4 separate regions of the Homo sapiens genome follow, and all the other regions are linked to region 4. The links come from fine-mapping of genetic effects on gene expression. A gene starts in region 4. Each other region holds a variant in brackets. All regions are shown on one strand. Distances are between the middles of the regions.

The links. PIP is the estimated chance that this variant, and not a neighbour inherited with it, causes the effect. A credible set is the group of variants that fine-mapping cannot tell apart.
Region 1: its variant is the best candidate, but not a certain one, in a credible set for the expression of TCF20 in whole blood (TOPMed, PIP 0.66).
Region 2: its variant is the best candidate, but not a certain one, in a credible set for the expression of TCF20 in whole blood (TOPMed, PIP 0.89).
Region 3: its variant is the best candidate, but not a certain one, in a credible set for the expression of TCF20 in whole blood (TOPMed, PIP 0.61).

The regions. Positions count from the first base shown.
Region 1 is chr22:42,215,319-42,220,461 of GRCh38, forward strand. It overlaps TCF20 (transcription factor 20), which reads right to left. Exons shown (of 6, transcript NM_001378418.1): 2 at 1-23. Among named protein-coding and RNA genes, the nearest start is that of TCF20, 53 kb to the right of the region's middle. RefSeq lists enhancers at 1-164, 2,435-3,023. The variant T/C (reference allele first, on the strand shown) is at 3,038.
Region 2 is chr22:42,306,873-42,312,015 of GRCh38, forward strand. It overlaps a transcript of TCF20 not described here. Among named protein-coding and RNA genes, the nearest start is that of TCF20, 39 kb to the left of the region's middle. RefSeq lists an enhancer at 3,550-4,256. The variant G/A (reference allele first, on the strand shown) is at 1,956.
Region 3 is chr22:42,296,710-42,301,852 of GRCh38, forward strand. It overlaps a transcript of TCF20 not described here. Among named protein-coding and RNA genes, the nearest start is that of TCF20, 29 kb to the left of the region's middle. RefSeq lists enhancers at 1,052-1,697, 3,071-3,749, 3,609-3,838, 3,750-4,428, 4,429-5,107 and 2 more. The variant G/A (reference allele first, on the strand shown) is at 3,143.
Region 4 is chr22:42,268,482-42,273,624 of GRCh38, forward strand. TCF20 (transcription factor 20) reads right to left here and starts at 2,172. Exons shown (of 6, transcript NM_001378418.1): 1 at 1,858-2,172. It also overlaps the pseudogene OGFRP1. RefSeq lists an enhancer at 926-985 and silencers at 1,316-1,555, 1,696-1,755, 1,816-1,965, 2,106-2,265.

The sequences.
Region 1 (5,143 bases), 53 kb before region 4:
ACAGCAGCAGGCCAACAGCCCTCCTAGAAATAGAAGAAAGAAAAACATTAGACACGCATCTCCTTGGTACAAATAAAATCAAGTCTAGATGATGGAGGGAATAAAGATGAATCAGAGGCCCAGATGAAGCTGACTGGTTTGAATTTCTATTTTTTTTTTTTGGTTTTTTGAGACAAGAGTCTCACTCTGTCACCCAGGCTGGAGTGCAATTGCACGATCTCAGCTCAATGCAACTTCTGCCTGCAGGGTTCAAGCAATTCTCTTGCCTCAGCCTCCCGAGTAGCTGGGACTACAGGCGCATGGCCACCAGGCTCGGCTAATTTTTTGTATTTTTAGTAGAGACAGGGTTTCACTGTGCTGGCCAGGCTGGTCTCGAACTCCTGACCTCGTGATCCGCCCACCTCGGCCTCCCAAAGTGCTGGAATTACAGGCATGAGCCACCACGCCTGACCTTGAATTTCATCTTTTATATTTTATCCTATCCACTTCTGAAAATGCACATATGCAGAGAAATGGCCTAAAGAGTGAGGCAAGAATCTGTAGTAGAATGAAAAGCAGCACTCTGAGTGCATACAAACCCAATACAGCAAAAACATGTATGTCTCATATATCTAATAATGCCTTATTAGACAAATGAGCCCCCAAACTCAACCAGATTAAAATATGGGGCTGTGTTATTACTGTCAATGAAAAACAGCAATTTTTCAATAAGCCTCCCAGTTATGCGGGGGAGGGGGTGTGGGGTAAGAAAAACCAAATCCTTTTTTTTTTTTTTTTTTTTTTTTTTTTGAGACAAGGTCTCACTCTTGCCCAGGCTGGAGTGTGCAGGGGCACAGTCGTAGTTCACTGCAGCATCAAACACCTGGCTTCAAATGATCCTCCTGCCTCGGCCTCTCAAAGTTTTGGGACTACAGGCATAAGCCACTACTTTCATTTCTCTGCTTTCATGTATTAGGGTGATCACTGAACTGCGGGTTTTAACACTGGCTGCTGATCGCCACTCCCCAACACTGAGAAACAGACCTGGCCAGAGAACTGCAGCCAATTCCTTATGTCCAAGTGCAAATTTTTGCAGCTTTACTATAATTGCCAACTACCTGTGATGACTGGTGACTCCAGGACACTCAGCCCATATGGGTTCCACACAAACTTTGGAGTCAACCTCTTCTTGGCATATGACTGTGTCTACAGCACCCCTCTCTCCACCACTCTCCTTCAATTCCCAGGTACAAAGGGCTAGACTTAAGCCAGTGAATAGCAGTGACTATTCTTCCAGATTATTTTGGGAGGTTTCCAAGAAGTTCCAGCACCTTTACCCGCCATGTGGTATTTGTATTTGCCAGTTTTTTAAATTCACAGTTATTACTGGCCATTACTATGAAAGAATTAGAAGCAATCATCTTGGAGGACAGCAAAAAACAGAGAGGAAAATAGGAATTCATCAAGCCTAGGACCCAGACTCTTTCAAAGTTATCTGACTGAGCCACCACTTTGTATTACCTATTATAATCCCTCTTAATCAATCAAGCTGATTTTTTCCCCTTTCACCTGGGCCTGTCTCCTCAGAGTCAGAGATGAAAGGGACAAGGCCAAATTGCTCCAAGTGACTTTAGAACCAATTACTTAAAAAAACAAGTTCCAAAATACATATAGGGTAAAGTGAGGTGTAATAGACAGTTTAGTTTAGTTACAATGGTTTATGAAGCTAGTTTCCTAGTTCCCCTGAAGGGGAGCTGAAAATGGAGTTGCCTGCAGGAAAGTCAACAACCTTTTTAAAGGTAAGTCAGATTTATCCTCTCCAATCCCTGGAGTGGCTCCCACCTCATTCTTTGGGAAACTGGTCTCAAAGGCCCCTGCTCCCACCCCCTTGACCTCTCTGAGCTCCTCCCCTATCACTCTCTGCTCTAGCCCCACAGTTGCCTTGTTCCTGGAACAGGCCTACCACATATCTACATAGGAACTCTGTTCTCACCTGCACGTTCTTCTCCCAGAGCCAGATAGCTTGCTCTCCTTCCAGTCTTTGGGCAAGTGTCACTCATTCCCTGGTCATTCTAGTAAAAACAGCCAGCTCCACACCTTTTCCCTGGCTGTAACTCCCTCCCCTGTTTTATCCCCTGCCTGGCCCCATACTTACTCCAAACAGACACATATATGCTACTTGTTTACTGTCTGTCTCTCCTCTGACTAAAATGTAAACTCCTTAAAGGGCAGAAACTGACTGTTCCTTGCTGTAATCCTCACGTCATCACACCGGAGTCTGTGTGAATGATTAAATGGTGTAAGAACTAGGCCTTAGAGAACTAGGCTAGAACTCACATATTCAGAGATGGTGCTGTGGGAGTGACATGAGAGAATTATAGAAAGTGAAAATAGAATATGATCAACCTAAAAGCAGAGCTGGAGGATGCTGAAGACCTTGCCTGTAAAATCCCATGAGTCCGGTTCTAAGGGAAAGACCCAGCTTGAGTCCACATGAGAACTGAGGAAAGACTTCAGAAAGTAAATATTGATTAGAGCAGAAGATGGCCAGTAACCCCAAATTCTAAAAGCTTGACCCATATCTTGAAATATCGTAAGTCTAAAACAGCTAGACAAGGGTCTACTTCCTTAAGCTTGATTATATAGTCATGTGACCCAAAACAATCGCTAAACATTCATGTGCAAATAATGTCAGAATCTAAAGGAAACTTCTCATCCTATTCAAAATGCCTCTGTTGCTTTGTTCCAGTGAATCTGCAGGGCAGTAGGTAATAGCTATTCAAATGGTGATGATGCTGCTTGACACTGTTCCAGCACTTCACATACACTAACTCATTTAATCCTCACAACACTAGCACGCTCCTTTTACAGATGAGGAAACAGAAGCAGAGTTCACAAAGCTCCTAGGCAGCAGGGCTGGGGGCAGGACATGTTTTTAACATTACATTGCCCAGAGGGTCTTCCACATGGTCAGTAAAAAATACCAGTTGTCCTGTCAGTTTGGCCTTGAAAGTGGGTAGCCACCCACAATAAATCTGTCCCTTCACTGCCACCCTCT[T/C]ATAAGGACCTCCATACTGTTCCAGCTGGCTCTTCACCCGCTCCCCATCATTCTTAGAACTATCAAGAGCAATTCTGTCTACATGAGTATTAATTTTTTCCCCTTGTGATGTGCTCCTGCTCTACTCCTCAGTGCCAGTGGCCTTCTCTAGATAAAACAAGGCTGAATGGGGGCTAAATTGAACAAAAACATTAAAGCTAGCAGTTTAAACTAATGAAAAGCCTTCTCAAGAGATATTCTCTATAAAAAGCTATGTTACATGTTGTTTAATTAATCCTTCTGGAAATAAAATCAGGCTTCTGAAGATCTGAGTGTATAAACAATGTTGCCACTTGCTCCATATTCTTCCTAAATAGGAGCCACCAAGAGCTAAAGGCCACTTTAAACATCAGGGTATCAGGCCTGAGGCTGCCCTATCTCCAGACAGGGAAAACAGATACAGGAAGGACTCCTTCTTAGGTCTGTTCTCAGCCTTCCCCTGCAGATTCCCTGTCCTGTATGATACCCCTTTCCCTATTGTTATGGTTCTACTTTATGAAAAAGAAAAAAAAAAAATCCAAGGCCAAATACCTCCTGCAGGGTTCCAGTCATGCTAAATATTCTTAGTATACATGAAGCACCTGAGTAGGAGAAGGTGGTTGCCCAGGTTTATCTTTTTTAGGAATGCCAAGTAAACCAATTAAGAAAACCAACTAGCATATACCAACGACAGAAAATGTAAACCTGGAGCTATAAAATAAGTAATAGGCTGGGTGTGGTGGCTCACACCTGTAATCCCAGTGTTTTGGGAGGCTGAGGTGTGAGGATCGCTTGAGGTCAGGAGTTCAAGACCAGCCTGGGTTAAAAAAAATTTTAAATGCACAGTGTCATGAGGTGTGCCTACAGTCCCAGCTGCTCAAGAGGCTGAGGTAGGACGATTGCTTGAACTCAGGAGTTCGAGGCTGCAACGAGCTATGAATGTGCCAATGTGCTCCACCCTGGGTGACAGTAACCCTGTCTCAAAAAAAAAAAAAAAAAAAAAAAAAAGCTAATAGAGATAATTCCAATTTTATCCCATCATCTTAAAAAAAGCATCAGTGTAGTCAGTTTTAAAGCACTGTGATTAGTAATAATAAGTGCCTGAATTCCTTTGTTTAAATGAATACAAATAGTAAGGAAAATCTGATACCTCAAAGGAATAAGTCACCTAAGGAACTTGCATACACACTCTAAAAAAGAGGCTGGGCACAGTGGCTCACCCCTGTAATCCCTGAACTTTGGGAGGTCAAGGCGGGCAGATCACTTGGGCTCAGGAGTTCGAGACCAGCCTGGGCAACATGGCGAAACCCTATCTTTATAAAAAATACAAAAATTAGCCAGGCATGGTGATGCGTGCCTGTAGTCCCAGCACCTCGGGGGGCTGAGGCAGGAGGATCGCCTGAGCCTCGGAGGCAGAGGTTGCAGTGAGCAGAGATCGCGCCACTGCCCTCCAGCCTGGGCAACAAAGCGAGATTCCGTCTCAATAAATAAATAAAAAAGAGGCCTACCGATGTACTTCCCATCCATAATGACTCTCCCTTTCCTGTTTTTCTCCTATATTCCTAACTTTCTGAACAGTTTCAGAAGGGCTGTGGAGGTGTATTAGTGAGGTCCAGAACTCTGTGCCTAAACATTCCAGAGTCCATGTGCCGACCTCACAAACTCACTCATAACCAGCTGCAGACTTGTTCTCCCCATCCTATTAGAGGGCTGATGACCTTGCCCTCTTATAGAAAACCAACATTGGCTTTCTCTGTCCTTCTTCCTCCATATGTCCAACAACATCCCACTTCCCAATCCATTCTCTTTTTTGGAAAGAGAGTCTCACTCTGTTGCCCAGGCTGGAGTGCAGTGGCATGACCACAGGCTCACTGCGGCCTCAACTCCCAGCTCAGGCAATCCTCCTGCCTCAGCCTCCCAAGTAGCTGGGACCACAGGCATGGGACCCCTGGCTAATTTTTAAAAAATAATTGGGACTATGGCTAATTTTTATAATTTCTTAAAAATAGAGACAGAGTCTCACTGTGCTGTCCAGGCTGGTCTCAAACTCCTGGGCTCAAGCCATCCTGCTGTTTCAACCTCCCAAAG
Region 2 (5,143 bases), 38 kb after region 4:
TACTAAAAATACAAAAATTAGCCAGGCATGGTGGCACGCTCCTGTAATCCCAGCTACTCGGGATGCTGAGGCACGAGAATCGCTTGACCCTGGGGAGCGGAGGTTGCAGTGACCCGAGATCATGCCACTGCACTCCACCCTGGGTGACAGAGCAAGACTCTGTCTTAAAAAAAAAAAAAAAAAAAAAAAAGACTGAGAGGAGGGGCAGCCAGGGCCGGGCACCAACCCGAGCCATCTGGTGGCAATGGTGGGCTCTGACGACAGCATGGGGTTGCCCCTGAGATGCACCAAGGGAGGCAGCAGCAGAGGACGCCGGCTGCAGTAGCTACAACCAGCATTTGACCAGCAGTGCACAGTGGTCAGGTCAGGGCCATTCTCTAAAAGCATCCTCGCCCCGGAATGTGAGGGTGGGACCTTGTCTGGTCACCAAGCAAGCCAAGTTCCTTCATTCCCTGCCTTCCATCTGCACTTAGGCCCAGAGTGGCGGACAGCTGGGAAGGGTGACTTTGGAGCCACTGCTCTGATTCCCCCTGCCCCGCCTACTCTGACTGGAGCTAGACTATTCCTTCCTTTCCAATAGCCCGCTGATCCCTAGCTCCCTCTGATCTCTGCCCTCACGGGATGTAAATTCAGACTAAGGTGTGGATGACTGATACCAGCTTCATCTCTCTCCCGGCCAAGGGCATGTACATTCTGAAGCACTAAACTTGACATCCCAACTGTGATGATGGTGACTCACAGAGGTGAGGAGCTAAGTGAAGCGTCCCCTGGGATGGGACTCTAGAAGCTCTGACCCAGCACAGGCATGGAACACAAGATAATGCAACCATCGCAGCGGAAGACGAGGCCTCCTGTGCCACTCACACCCCTTGGGCTACATGTCTGCAGGTAAGCCCCATGGCTCTCTGAGCCTCGGTCTCTTCACACTCTCCCCTACCCAGCGGTGTGACTCCGGTCAGGTCCCTCAGACTCTCTGAGCTCCAGCTTGGACGGCCAGCTGGACACCGGCCTCCTGTGGTATCCTTCGGAAGACGAACTTCGAGGCACTGCTATCTCCCAGCTCCACAGCCCTGGCCATATGTTATTATAATGGCCTTGGCCAATAGGGGCGCAGGCTATTAGAATGAGTTAAGACCAGATTAATCTGCTTAAAAATATATGCCTGGTTTTTACGCTATGCATTCCCTCCTAACAGCACAGGCTCCTTCCAGGCCATTATCTCGTTTTATCGTTAATTCAATTCCATAAACATGTATTAAGTGTCTATAATGCGTGGAGCCCTGGTCTGGTAGCTGGGGTGGGGAGAGGGGGCTATGGGGGTGACGGAAGCCCTGGCCCCCAAGGTGCCTATAGTGAGGCGGGGGACCCACCTGACCCTCAACCCCTTGGACGTGAAGCAAGTGAGAGAGAGAGCTCGAGGAGGAAAATGTTCACCAGCCTAGAGGTTTGGAGGCGCTTCCTGGAGGGGGCCCACAAACACTAGGGGTGGAGACAGTAACATGTGACTCAGACAGAGGGCTACTAGGTGCCAGGTAGTGTTCTCAGCACTTTACAGACTCACTTAGTCCTCCCTATCCTTGGGGGCAGGCACTAATGTCACCCCCATTTTACAAATGAACAGAGTCTCAAGGAGGTAATGAAGGCCCCAAAGCACCCTAGGTGAAGCCACGAATCCAACCCCAGAGTCTGGGCTTTACCTCTGCACAACGTCCCCAGGGTCTTAGAAGTGTACCCAGGGCCATGGCAGGCACAAGGTATCTGGGAATGAAAGAAGGAACACTGAGCCTCCCCCATGGCCAGAAGTGAGTCTGGTCCCTTCAAGTGAGTCCTTGAGGGATGGCTGGATTTTGGTGAGCAGAGATGAAGTGAGGACAGGGGAGGGAGATCCTCCCAGCTAGGCCAGGAGCAGGACCACAGAGGCAGCTGGCCCTAGGTCTCAATCCTGGCTCCCTGTC[G/A]CTGGCCAGGTGATCACATGCTATTACTTAATATCTCTGAGCCTCAGTTTCCATCTCTACAGAAATGGTAGGTGGCACCTGCCTTGCTAGACCCAGGCGTGGGTGAAACGGGCTGGGATTGCACACAGGCCCTGAGGGTAGAGCTTACTGAGAGCAGAGGGGCACTGAACACCCAGGGAACACGCCGGTGCCTGCCGCCTGGTGCAGAGGCCTCACAGGACACCCTGGCGGGGGAGGCTGAGAGAAGCATGGCCGGCCGGCCACAGAGAGGCTGGCCTGGAAGGGGCAGGAGGCGGTGGACCATGCCCACTCTGCAAATGAGGAGACAGATAAGAGCGGAGCCGGCAACCCCTGCGGGACAGTCACTGGGCTTGTTTTCATGTTCTTCCCCAGAGATTTACAGACAGCAAGTGCTCCCCAAGGTCTCCACCAGGGGACAAATGCCAGGAGCCCCCGCCTGCCCTGTCAGCTGGGAGGGGACACTGCTAAGGGAACAGGGTAGGCTAGACAAGCAGGACGGGGGACTACAGAGCCTGTGAACTGCCACATGCCAGGATCCTCAACCTGTCACCCAGACCCCGCCAGGCCCCAGTGCCCTGGGCCTCCCTCCCCAGCTTGGGCCTCCGCGCTCTGGCCTGACCCACCTCCCCAGCCTCCTCCTTTACTGCTCCCCTTCTGCCCACCTCGCCCCCGCTGCCCCAGGCTCCTGAGCTTCCCCCTCCCCACATTCAGGAGTTCCCTACCCATCTACGGCTGCTGCACACCCCAACCGTGCCCGTGGCCCTCCACACCTCTGCCCACACTGTCCCCAATGCCAGCAACGCCCCTGCAACTCCCCACTGCCTAGAAAACCTGTATTCTTCCTTCCAGTCTCAGCTCAGACTTCTTTCCTCTCAAAGTGCCTCTGGACTGCCCTGTCTGGCTTTTCATGTCAGCTGCCAGTCGTCACCTCTCTGAGCCTTGCTGTCCTCGTCTGCAGAATAGGGGTGACACCAGCACCTCACAGTGTTGTGGTGAGGATGAAGTAAGAAAAACACAAACTGCCTGGGAAGCTGCTTCTGTCATCATCGCCATGAGGATGCTCTGAGGTTGTGTCCAAGGCTAACTCCACACTGGCCCTAATCTTACCCCTTCCAGCCCTGTCTCTCCAGTGCCCTGCACAGGGCCTGGTGCCCAGGCACTGCTGAATCAGAGGGCAGAACAGCCAACTGCCCGGAGCGGCCATGAAGTTTTCCCAGAAAAGGTGGACTTTGAAGGATGTGTAGGAGTTTATAAAGGGGCAGATGAGGAGGAAAAAATGAGGAGCAAACTCTAGGCAGAGGGAATTGTTTCTGTTGGACCTTGCAGGCCTTAACTGCCTGCCACACTGAGGAGTTTACATTTCATCCCAGGGGCAGTAGGAAATGGAAAGTGTTTAATTAGGGCAATGACAATCATATGTTGGCACATTCATCTAACACTTGCTAAGGGCCTACTATGTGCCAGGTCCTGGGGATCTAGTGGAAACAAGATGGACAGTCCCTGGGGCTACGGAGCCCATGTCCCACTGGGGGAGACAGACAGTGAGAGACTCTCACAAATAACCCATTGATGCCAGCTCTCTGGGGGGTTGTGCGGGGGGGAGTAAGTGGTGCTAAGAGACTGTCGACAATAACAGGAATCCAGCCAGGGGGGCGCGTGGGCTCAGAGGAAGCAGTGTTTCAGCCAGGCTAGACGAGGAAGGCATGCAGAGAACTTTCCAGGCAGAGCCCTGAGGAGGAAAGGAGTATGGCTCGTGGAAGTGGCAGCCCGCATGGCTGGAATACAGTGGAGAGGACTGGCGTGGCAATGGAGTGCAAGGAGACAGGGCCTGTGGTGGACATGAGCAGGGTGGATTTTAGCCCCCAGGCAATGGGTGGCCAGGCCAGGAGCCTGAGTCTGGAAAGTTGCAAATTCCTGGACAGAGAGTGACAAGCCAGCCCCAACAGGTGGATCTGTGGTTTAAGGAGGCCACTCTGAGAGCCCAGGAGGGCCCCGCAGAGCCTGGGCCGCCCGCCTGCCCGCCCTCTTTTCTCCCCAGCAGAGCAGCGGCAGGCAGATTGATGAGGCGGAGGCTCAATCTGTCTTGAGTTTAGCTCAGCTTCTGGCTGCATCTTGGATGACACTGGCTCATCAATACCCAAGAAAATACGGCCTGGAGGGAGGAACACTTAGGAACCGTATGGCTGGCCCAAGGCTGGCCCGGTGGCATCCAGGGATTGCTCCCCTCAGAAGGTGCACACGAGTGCAGGAATCGGGGGACAGGGGGGTGGCCAGGCTCCCAAACTGCGGCTCACACACAGCCTGCCTCCCCTCAAGGACCTGCACGCCAGCCCTCCCACCTGCGGCAGGCTCTGGGCAGGGGTCCCTGCGGGGCTGGCGACTGGGACCTGCAGTCAGGGAGGCAGAAGGGGGCTGCCTAAGTGCTTCATCTCCTGGCACCAGGCCCAGGCCCAAGGCCTTTCCCAAGGGGACTGGGGGGAAGGGCAGGAGGGGCACTGAATGGTGTGTCATAGAGTAGGTACCCCCTGTGCCTCAGTTTCCTCATAAGAGAAACGAGGACATTTTTGCCTCAGGGTGGTGTGGGGATCAAATCAGCCTCTAGAAGTGATCACCTTTCCTAAAGGACAAAAGGCTGTGAGGATTGGGCCCTCTCTCAGCAGCTGCAAACCAGAGGGGCTGACCTTGGTGCCCTGCAGGGGCCACACCACCATCATACACCCATGTTGTGGACAGGAGCAAGGTGCAGTTGAAGGGTATGGACGGGAATCATGCAGACCCCAGGCCTGGCCCTCCCAGCTGGGAAACCTGCTAGCGGTGCCTCAGTCCCCTCCCCTGCAAAACGGGGATGAAAACATCCCAAGCCCAGGGCTGTAGGGCTGAAAAGAGCAAGAAAAGTGCAATCCCGGGCACCCTGCAGGCACACAGGAGCTGCCGCGTGTCCTCCCAACTCTGATTTCCCCGTCTCTTCCACAGACCCCTGCACCAGAGCCCTGCATAGTCAAGACAGCCCTGTTCTCCTAGGCACATAGGTTACCCAGAAGCTGGGACTTGAAAGGGTCTCCTTCCTAGAAGGGGTAGTGAGACTCTAGGGTTCTGCATTTTAGAAGAACTTAGGGCAACAGTTATGCCAAAGGAATGAATCACAAACGGTAAAACTTCTGCCAAAA
Region 3 (5,143 bases), 28 kb after region 4:
AAGTTTCTCCTCACCACCCGAGCCACAAGGGGGCCCTGCTGATGCCAGCCCCAAGCAGGGCTCAGGGATGTAATCACGCTGCAGGGGGACCCAGGAGGCCCCGTCGCCATTTATTCAGCTCAGCTTTTCGCGAATGAGAAAGCAGCACGAGGAGCAGGGGGAGATTTTCAAGTCAAATAACAGTAAAAACAGCAGCAACTACAGCTGACACTCAGCAAGCACTCACTCCATGCCAGGTGCTCCATGCACTCCGGCACTGACATCTCTCCAAAGGAAGGTGCTATAGTTAAACCCACTCTACAGATGTGGCAACTGAGTTCAGAGAGGTGCAGTAACCCACCCAGAACCACACAGCAAACTGGAGAAGTCAGTTTAAACTTGGGCCCCAGAACCTGTGTCCCAACCCCTATGCACTACTGGTTCAGGCAGGCCTCAGTGCCCATACCCACAATGGATGGCCCAGCTGGGCGACCTTGGGCAAGGAGGCTGCCCATCTGGAAAATGGGCATGATCAGAGAGGGCTACGCTGTAGAACTGACCAGGGGGCTGAAAAAAGAAAAACAGGTGAGGAGCTACTTCCTGTCCCCTGCCAGGCCTGAGCAGAGGTCAGACTCCCTAGCTGGCTTAAGGGTTGGTCATATTCATGGAGCGGCAAGAATGAGGAGTGGGTCCTCATTTGCATTAGACGGTAAATCTAAGGACACTGGTTGTGCCTTCTTTTTACCAGCAACAAGAACTCATCAGAGCCCCTCCCAACCTTCTCCCATCCCCCACTGCCTCCTGAGCACCCTCCAAGGGCACAGCTGGGTGAGCCCCATGGCTGGGCTGGAGGGGCCAGACACTGGGGAGGGGCAGTTCACAGGGTCAGCCATGAAAGCCCATGATCCCTGAGCCTCGAGCTCAGCCCCCAGGAGCTTCCCCTTCATAACCTCTTCTCCCAACCCAGACCAGGCAGACTTAGGAAATACTGGCCAGAGAGAATCTTGAGCCACACAATTCAGACAAATGTGTGTGGACTCCCCTCTTGCCCCACAAACCACAACAGAAGGCCTCGGGTCGCATCCCCCCACCAGCTGGGGCCCCTGTCAGGCAGGGCCCAGCATTCCTGGCTGATGGTGAGGAGATGAGACCCAGGGTGGAAGGAACACATGGAGGGTTCACAGCAGGGCTCCTCTCTGGCACCCATGCAGAGCAGGCAAGGATGAACATGTGCTGGTTTCAGGGCTGGGCCTGGGGGTGCAAAGGTGACCGCTCAGCCCAGCTGCTCACATCTGTACAAAGTGGTGGGGCTTTTCAGCATCTGTCTTCTCAATAGACTCAAAGCAAACCCATGGGAGAGAAGGCATCACCACTGTCTCCATTTCTCACATGTCCTGAGAGGGCCAGTGACTTGCCCAAAGTCACACAGCTGATCAGGGCACAAATCCCAGGGCCCTGGTGCTCCTATCACCAGATTCCCTAGCCCGGAGGAGGGCTGAGCCCTCAGCCAGAGCCAAGGCTCAGCTTCCAGCGACTCATCCAAGAACTGAGATGGAGCAGGGGATGAGTGAGGACAGGCAGGGTTTGACATCAGCGGAGGTGCTCCTGGAGAGAGGGTAGGTGAAGGTGGGCACATGGGCGATTGACCCAAAGGGCCGACTGTTGTTGGGGCACCCATTGGGTGTGGAAGGCGACAGCAGCTGCTGCTGAGAAGTTATTCTAGGGAGACAGGAGTAGTGTCACTATGGTTTCAAGGAGGAAAACAAGGCACATGCCGGGGTGGTGACTCCAGGGCCGAAGCCTCCTTGGCTATCACTGAAGACCATCCTGCCCAGAACCCCGAAGCAGAAGGCCTGGGTCCCAGCCCTGCTGTCAAGTCTCGGCACTTCCCTGAGCCTGGGCTCTTCATCTTTGCACGGATGGTGCTGGGGGAGGGGGCAGTGGGACAGGCAACACTCTCACATCCCCTGTGGATAGCTGGGCACATAGTAGGCCTACCAGCTGGCATGGTCGCAAGTTTGCCCTAATTTCATCTATCTCTGCACTTGCCTTTTGTGGGGACACCCACCTAGATGACAAATTTGACCAAAGAAACCACAGCAGGGATGGGCCAGAGCCTGGAGGCCAGAGCAGCAGGCAGTCCCCTCCCCACCAGGCCTTCCCCAGGACAGTCCAGAACCAGCGTGCCCAATGCCCCGGCCTCCAGGAGCCATCCCTGCCTCAAGTCGGGGGAGGACGAGAGGGCCCAGGGCAGGGAGGGGCCGGGCACCACGGCCAGCACAGAGGAGGCACCCACTGGTGTGTCCTCAGCCTTAGAAGCTGTGGACCAACTGAAACAGAGAATAACCATGGCAGTGATGGGTGGGCTCCAAGGGTTCCCACACCCACCGCCTGCCCAGACCCCTGCTGTGGAGGGGAACGGAGACCTGGAGGGGTACCCCCAAAAATCTGGACTTGGCCCTGCAGGCTTCTCTGGCCTTTAGAAGGCACGGGAGGATGGGGGCAAGGGGGCGGTAGGCAGACAGCAAGAGCAACCAGTGAGCCCAGAGGACAATCACAGGGAGGACGGCGGCAAGGAGGTGAGGCCATGTCTGGCTGGGGGTGCAGGAACTGAGGGTCCTTCCCAGCCCCTCTCCCCACATCCAGCCCCCTGCTCTGGCACTCTCTCCATCTGCCTCTCACACAGTCCTTACCTTGCTCTCCCTCCCCATGGACTCTCTCTCCCATCTCCCCTCCCCACTCCTAGCCAACCTCCAATGCCCTGGGGCCTCAATTTCCCCCAGGACAAAGGGGCCTCAAGGCCTCATGAACAGAACATGCTGGCAGTGGTGGGTCACCCAGGAACCCCGAGGAACTGGAATGGGGGTGGAGGGGAATCACATGTCCCACTGGTCACCAGTCCCTCTTGCCTTTCTGTCCCAGCTAGCAGCTCTCCAACCTCTGTACCTCTCCCCGAACGCAGGCCCCCCTGCCCGCACCCCAACACTTCAAGACCTCCTAGGAGTGACCTGGCTGGGGTCTCTCTAGGTCAGGTAATTAATAGCAGGAGGGAAGTGCAATTAGCAGGTACCTGGAGTGGGGTCGGTAAGAGAGAATAGCAGAGGAGGAGGAAGTGGTGGGGATGGGGGAGGGGAAGAGAGAAGGGGGAGAAGGAAGCGGAGGG[G/A]AGGAGGGAGGAGGGAAAAGACAGAAAGGGGTAGAAGGGAAGCTTGGAGCGGGTGGAGGAGGAGGGGGAAAGGGAGCAGAGGAAGAAAGGAGAGGAGGGGAAGGAAGGGCGGGGAGGGGGAGGGGGAGGGGCGCGCTGAAATCACCCGCAACATCAAAGCCTTCCCCAGCCGCAAAGCAGTCACGTGCAGCCTGGTTCCTTTCGTTCCTTCGTTCCTTCGCTGGTAGAAGCCGCTGGGCCTGGGGCTGCTGAAGGAATTTTAAAACGAGGCAGATTGTCTGGAATATCAGGGGGTTAGGGGAATGCGGTTTTATCTCAAGGCAGGGTAAGGGGAGGCAGGTTTTGAAACCTGTTCCCCCAAGGAGAGCGGCAGGGCTTTGGGGCCTCTGCTAGGAGGCTGGGCAGGTGGCCAAGAGTGAAGACCACCCAGCTACTCCTGCCGGTGAGAGCTCGTGGCTGGGCCAGCCCAGATATCAACAGAAGCCAGAAATCTAGATTTGTATGTGAAAACTTCCCTGTTTTAATTTTGGCTCAAACTAAAAAAAAAAAGAAAAAAAGCGCCACATGGGCCAAATAGAGCATGTCCTGACTGGGGCCCAGAACCTCGGTCACCTCCCACTTCTGATGGTGGGCAGCAACGCTTTTGTTTCCCAGGGGGCACTGAGGCCCAGGAAGGGAAAGGCACTTGTTCAGGGACACACACAGTGAGTGCTCAAGGGGTGCGGGCTAAGACTTGGGGTCTCAGGACTCCCATGCCTGAAGCCTCCTGCGGTCAGCAGCCCAAGGGGCAGGGCTGTGGCTGCTGGGAAAGGGAAGTATAGGGAGGTTAGTGGCAGGGGAGGGTCTCAGAAAACCCCTCGTCCAGCCCAGGGCCAACACACTCAGCCCCACTCATCACCCTGATGACTAACCCAGGCCTGCCTCTCTGCCTTTGCCTCTGCTCAGCCCATCCTCCCTATCCACTCCTGACATTCCCTCCTCCCCCTGCCAAGACCTGGGCAGCTTCCCCTCCCCCGAGCCCCACCTGCAGAATGCACCATGCATTCAACCATTCATTCTTCTGTTGCTCCCCAAGGCCCTGAGTCAGCCTTAACCCCACCTTCAGAGGCCAGGACAGGGGAGGGTGTTTAGGATAGAGAGGTGTGGCCTCCAAGGAGGAAGCAGCTACCTCTGTAGGGTGGCGGTAGGGGAGTCTCCCCAAAGGAAGGTCCTAGGGCAGAGCATGGCATCTGCACTTACCAGGGTGGAGGTGTAAATGGCTGCTGGAAGCCAGAGGCAAGGCTGGGAGGAGGTGGATGTGGGGGTTCAGAAATGCGGAAGTTTATCTTGCGGGCACTAGGGAGCCGTTGGAGGTGTGTAAGCAGGAGAGAGGTCGGCTCAGATCTTCACTATGGGGCTGTCAGGACAAGGCGAGGATGGAGTCATTCATAGGTTCAACAAGTGTTTGCTGAGCACTTACTCTGTGCCACGCCCCAGGGAGACAGAGGAGAGCCAGACAGACAAGGCGTGCACCTTGGGGAGACAGACGTGACCACACAACCACCACCACAGGGTGAGGGGGCTATGGTGGGGGCTGGACTGGGTAAGGCACGTGGCCTGGTCCCTCCAAAGAGGAATCCACCTGCAAGGTGAGGACAGGAGGGGACACTGTTCCCAGCCAAGGAGGTGGCATGCACACAGGCCCAGAGGTGGAGAAAGCAGGGCTTCCTAAGTCAAAGTGATTCGACAGGCGGAGGTGTCTGCAAGAGCCATGCCAAAGGTGACAGAGCTCCCTGGCGTAGCTCCAGGGCAATGGAAACCTTTGGGAGGGGTCTGGGAGCAGCAAGGGAGGGAAGGTGGGAAGCAATGTTTGCAGGCTGGGGAGACCTGGCTGCGTCCCTTGGCTCCCTGAAGTCTGTCGTGGGGAACAGGGGACTCCCTTTCTCACTGCCAGCGGGCAAAACCCGAGCAGATGGGCAGCCATTCCCCTGGTAGATTTCAGTTCTCCGAGGAGGAGCACTC
Region 4 (5,143 bases):
AGATGTTATGGCATTCTACTTCATCCCCCTACTCTGAGAATGCTGAAACTGGCTGGAAATTTCAACAGTTAGCCAAATGTCAAATGTCCTTTGAAGAACTTTAATAAAATCTGGATCCTCCAAAATCCCCTGCGTAGAAAGATCTTGGAACTCCTCTGAGCCAACATACACAGACCCAATCACATGTTATCCACACATTTTCCAAGTAGACAAATATTCTCTGAAACATTTTCTGATAACTTCTTTCACAAAGACAAAAAATATGTTAAGGTGCATTCCACCTAGGTCAGAATAATACACTTTCTGATCTGAAGCACAGAACAGCAAGTGGGATTTCAAAAAAGAGCGTACCCTGACCAACTTTTATGCTCTGTTGAAGGCAGAGGCTGGAAGCTTAAAGACAGGCTTTTAAAAGCCAGCTAAGGTACAGTCTGCATTTCTCAGAAAAGTTGCCTATGGCTAAAACAGAGCACAAAATGAGAGATAAAAAAGCAAAACCACAAACCCCTGTACCGTCTGACCCGGGAGTCCTCACTTAACAGATGAGAAAATTACCAGGGAAAGTAACTTGCCCTGGGCTGCAGTTTATTTGGCGTCAAAGCTGTAAGCAGATTCCTGGTCTCCCAGGTCGGAATTCAGTGTAGCTTCCCCATCCACCTAACTGCCACCCCACGGAAGATGCTGTATAAAACTCTTCACTCTTCACTGAGGCTGTTAACATAAGGGTCCAATTATCATTCAAAGATCAGCCTGTTAGATAATAGCTCGAAAATTCCATCCATTTTACAGCAGTTACCAGAGACATCTAATCTTCGAGGAAAAAAAAGCAAAAAGGAAAAGGGGGAAATCCTAATTTTGACCTGACCCCTAAGGTCAAACTAAAGGATTGAATACAGACCAGCAGACCGTATTGGTATCCGCAACCACAAAAACAGACAATAATCCCACCCACAAGCAGAGGAAGACGGCCGCTCCTCGGCACCGCCCCCCAACTCACTAAATTCCACTCCCATTCCGGCGTCCAGAGGACAGTGCACCTCCCGCCGTAGCCTGAGAGGGATCGGCCCGATTGGCCACGCTCCTTCAAACCACCACTTTCCCCCGAAAAAGGGACGAAAGCCTCAGGTCCCCAAACGAGCGCTCCCTCGCCCAGAGACCCCGGCTTGCACACCCCGCCCTGTTCCCCGCGGCGCGGGAGGAGAGGCCGCCCCACACAGGAAGTGTGTCCTGCGCCGGGACCTTGCGCCCAACCCGCCGGTACCTGCCCTCCGCCCCCAACAGGCGAGAAGCAGCCGCGTCCACATGGCTTCAGGTGTTCACATGGCAGTAAACGGGCCCCTGCTCTCCTGGGCGCCCCAGCGCGGCGCCCTCCCGCCCACATCCCGGCCCAGCCCCGCTGGCCTCGCCTCCAGCCCGTAGCCAAGAGGCGAGCGCGGCCGGTGCCCCCGGGGCTGCCAGGGGCCCCGAAGCAGGCGGCGCTGACTCCCGGACGCCGCCCGCTCACACCCGCCGCCTTTGCACCCAAGGCCTCGCGCGACCAGCAGGTAGACCTTCCCTCCGCACCCTCGGGCCAGCACCGGCACCCAAGCCCCGCCGGAACCCCGGGCCGGCCCAAGACACCTTAGCCCTCTGATGCCAGGCCTGGCCCGGGCCCCTGCCCGCACTCTTGGGTCGGGCCGGGCAGCAACACTCCCCTCAGCACCCCAAGCCCTGACTCGGAGTCCAGGAGGCTCCGCACTCCCAGGTTGGGTCCGGCCGGGACCTCTGCTCCCAGCCCCCGAGGCCGGACACCCCGGCCCGGCCCCAGTCCTTCAGGCCCAACCCTCTCCCTGCCCCTCAGGCCCGGGAGGCGGTTACCTGCAGGAGCCCCCCGCCCAGTCCCTCGGCCTCCGCCGGGGGCGGGCGGGGAGGGAGCGGTGGCGACGGCGGGCGGCGCTGCGCGGGGTGGGGGTGGGGGTGGCTCCGCCGCCTCCAGCTCGGGCGCCCGGGCCGGCGGCGGGGCGGGCCGGGGCCGCGGCCCCTCGAGGCTCGCTCCGGCCCGCGCGCTCGCTCCCCGGTCAGGCGCGCCTCAGGGCGGGCTCCCCTGGCGGAGGCCGCGGCCGCCTCGCAGGGGCCGAAAGCGGCTGGGCTCGGGGTTTTTTCTCTCCATTCTCCCAACACACAGGAAATAACAGAGCGTCAGGTGACGGCGCGCGGCCAATGGGGAGGCTCCGGGCCGCGGCGCGCGGGCGGGCGGGAGGGCGCGCGGCGGGGCGGGGCGCGCGGCGGGGGCGGGGCGCTGGGGGCGGGGCCGGGCGCGCGCGTGCCCACCCGCGTGCGGCGGCGTCGAGGCTGGCGCGCGCCGGGTAGGGATCGCGAAGACCCCCACCTCGCGGCAGGGTCGCACGGGGTTCTCCTCTGCGGCCGCTGGGCGCCGCGCGCCACCCGCCCAGTGCCATCTTGGCCTGCGCCTCAGGGCCGTCTTGGGGGTGGACGCGAGCCAACTTTCTGGGGGAGTTGGTGGCCCGGAATCTCTCTGGGATTTCTGGAGTTCCCTGGAGCCTCCAACTCCAGAATCGCGCCTCTTGCGGCCCGGGAGGTCCGCGGGCGAGGACCCGGTCTCCTCTCGGTGACCTGTTTAGTGGGGTCGGGCGTGGGGGCGGCTCCTGCCCGCCAAGAGCCCTCTGGGCCGGGGGCAGCCCAAGACCTAGCTGGTCCCGCCTGGGTCCCTGGCAGCCCCCGCCCATGGGTTCCAGGTGTCCGTGGAGGAACGACTTGGGTCCTCTCAGAGCCTCAGTTTCCACCGCGGAAAACGCGAGGAGGGAGGCCCACCTACCTCACCTGTAAAACGGACGCTCCAGCTGCCTTCTGCTGCGGCATTAAGAAGCTGCAATGCCAGGCTGACTGCGCCCAGGGTCCCGAATTAATTTGCCGATAAGGCGGAGGATTTGCGGTGCCAAGGCCTCAGCTTGTTCCCAGCCTTCCTTTGCAAACCTGATGTTTCTAAAGCAAAGGAAGGGCTTGACTTCTTTATAAAGAAAATCGCAATTGTAGAGCAACTAATATGTAGATGTTGGTGCCCCCACGGCCATCAAAAGTGACAAGGCCAGCAAGAGTAGGATGCGTTGAGAATTTGTGATCCTGCCCCTGACCTTTGACCTGGCCAAATTCTCCTCCCACTTTGGGCCTCAGTTTCCTGTGGGTGAGGAGAGTTTGGATTAGATGTCCCTAATGTTGGCTAAAATTGCCGATTCTAAATTAGGCTCCCATCTGTCCTAGATGTTAGGGGAGTATGTGGCTTCCTCTCCTGAAGCAACCCAACTTAAAAGTTGGGATTGGAAAAGTGCTTCCGGCAGCAGGTGGGGATTGTCAGGAACCAGGTGTGGTCTGGAACCCAGATTTCCATATATTTGAGGTACACAGCTTCCCGGGGCCTGCTTTTACTTTTTGACCTTTCACCCCACCTAGCCATTGCCTTTTCTCAGGCTACCCAAGGAGGGTCTCAGGGTCCCAGGCAGAGCCCCAGGTGGTCCTGGGCCCCTTGGCAGGAGCATGTACTTGGGGAAGGCAGTGATTTCTCCTGGCTTCTGTCCAATCTCACAAAGTGGGGGCTGGCTCCAAAGCAGGTCAGGACTATTCCTGGGGACTTGATTCCCCAACACCTCCTGCATGCCAGGCTCTTCCGGGGCAGAGCTGAACAAGCCACGGGGCCCTGCCCTCTGATTATTCCCATTGTTCTTCTGAGTTTCATTTTCAAATTCTCAGGCCTCAAGACTTTTAAAAGACCAGTACCTGGCTTCTCCTGGGATCAGGGCTGTAAAGGGAAAGCTGGAAGAGGCACTCAGCACAAATCAATGTTTTCTGGACAAAAATAGGAGAATGCAGGGCCTCCTGAAGACTGGTGTTGGGGGCACCCTTAATTTCTTGAGAGAATTCATGAAGAAAGATGAATCCTTTTTCCTTAGAGTCCCCTGCCCCATCATTCTTCCATTCTTTCCCTTCTTCATAACCTCACTTGCGTCTCAGATGCAGGGCCCGGGGGATGCTGACAATCTGTCGCAGAGCCTCATTCAAAAGGGAAAGAATAAAGAATGCAGACAGATAACTGGAGTCCAGGCGCCTGTCAGCTCCTGCCTCTTATAACCATGCAGCCCCCTCCCCGCCCTTTCAGACCCTGCCAGAACATTGCCCCAATGCCCTCCACCTGGAAACTTCCCCAGTCCTTGGACCAGGCCAGCTGGGCCTCTTTATCCCTGAAAGCCTGCCACTTTCTCTTTTGGTTCCATCTGGAAAAAGAACGTGTATGGGCATCATAGCCAACAGGAAGATGTGGGTTACTCTTGGACTGCGTGGCCTTGGACAAGTCACTTCCCCCTTTGGTTTCCTCAGCTATAAAATGGAGATAATATTATCTCACTGGGCCGGGTGTGGTGGCTCACACCTGTAATCCCAGCACTTTGGGAAGCCGAGGTGTGAGGATTGCTTGAGGCCAGGAGTTCAAGACCAACCTGCGCAACACAGTGAGACTCCCCCTCATCTCTATTTATTTAAAAGAAAAAAATTTTTTTTTAATTACCTCACTCATAAGGTGTTGTGGGACTCTCAAGAGAGCTGCATAGGCCAGGCACAGTGGCTTACGCCTGTAATCCCAGCACTTGGGAGGCCAAGGGGGGTGTATCACCTGAGGTCAGGAGTTCAAGACCACCCTGACCAACATGGTGAAACCCTGTCTCTACTAAAAATACAAAAATTAGCTGGGCGTGGTGGCGGGCGCCTGTAATCCCAGCTACTTGGGAGGCTGAGGCAGGAGAATCGCCTGAACCCTGGAGGCAAAGGTTGCAGTTAGCTGAGATTGTGCTGTTGCACTCCAGCCTGGGCGACAAGAGCAAAACTCCGTCTCAAAAAAAAAAAAAAAAAAAAAAAAAAAATTCAGTGCAGTACCAGGCACTGTTAACACTAGCTGCATGTTCTATGACATGGACACAAAAGGACATGAGTAGACTGAGGCTCAAACAGGTTAAGTTGCTGCCCAAGATTGCACAGTGGCAGGCACTCAATAACTGAGCGCCCCTTCCTCTGAAATCACATTAGTGTTTTCTGTTGTTCTCTCACTGTCTCAAATGCATGGATCCTGTTTTTCCTACCACACTCGGAGCTCTTTAAG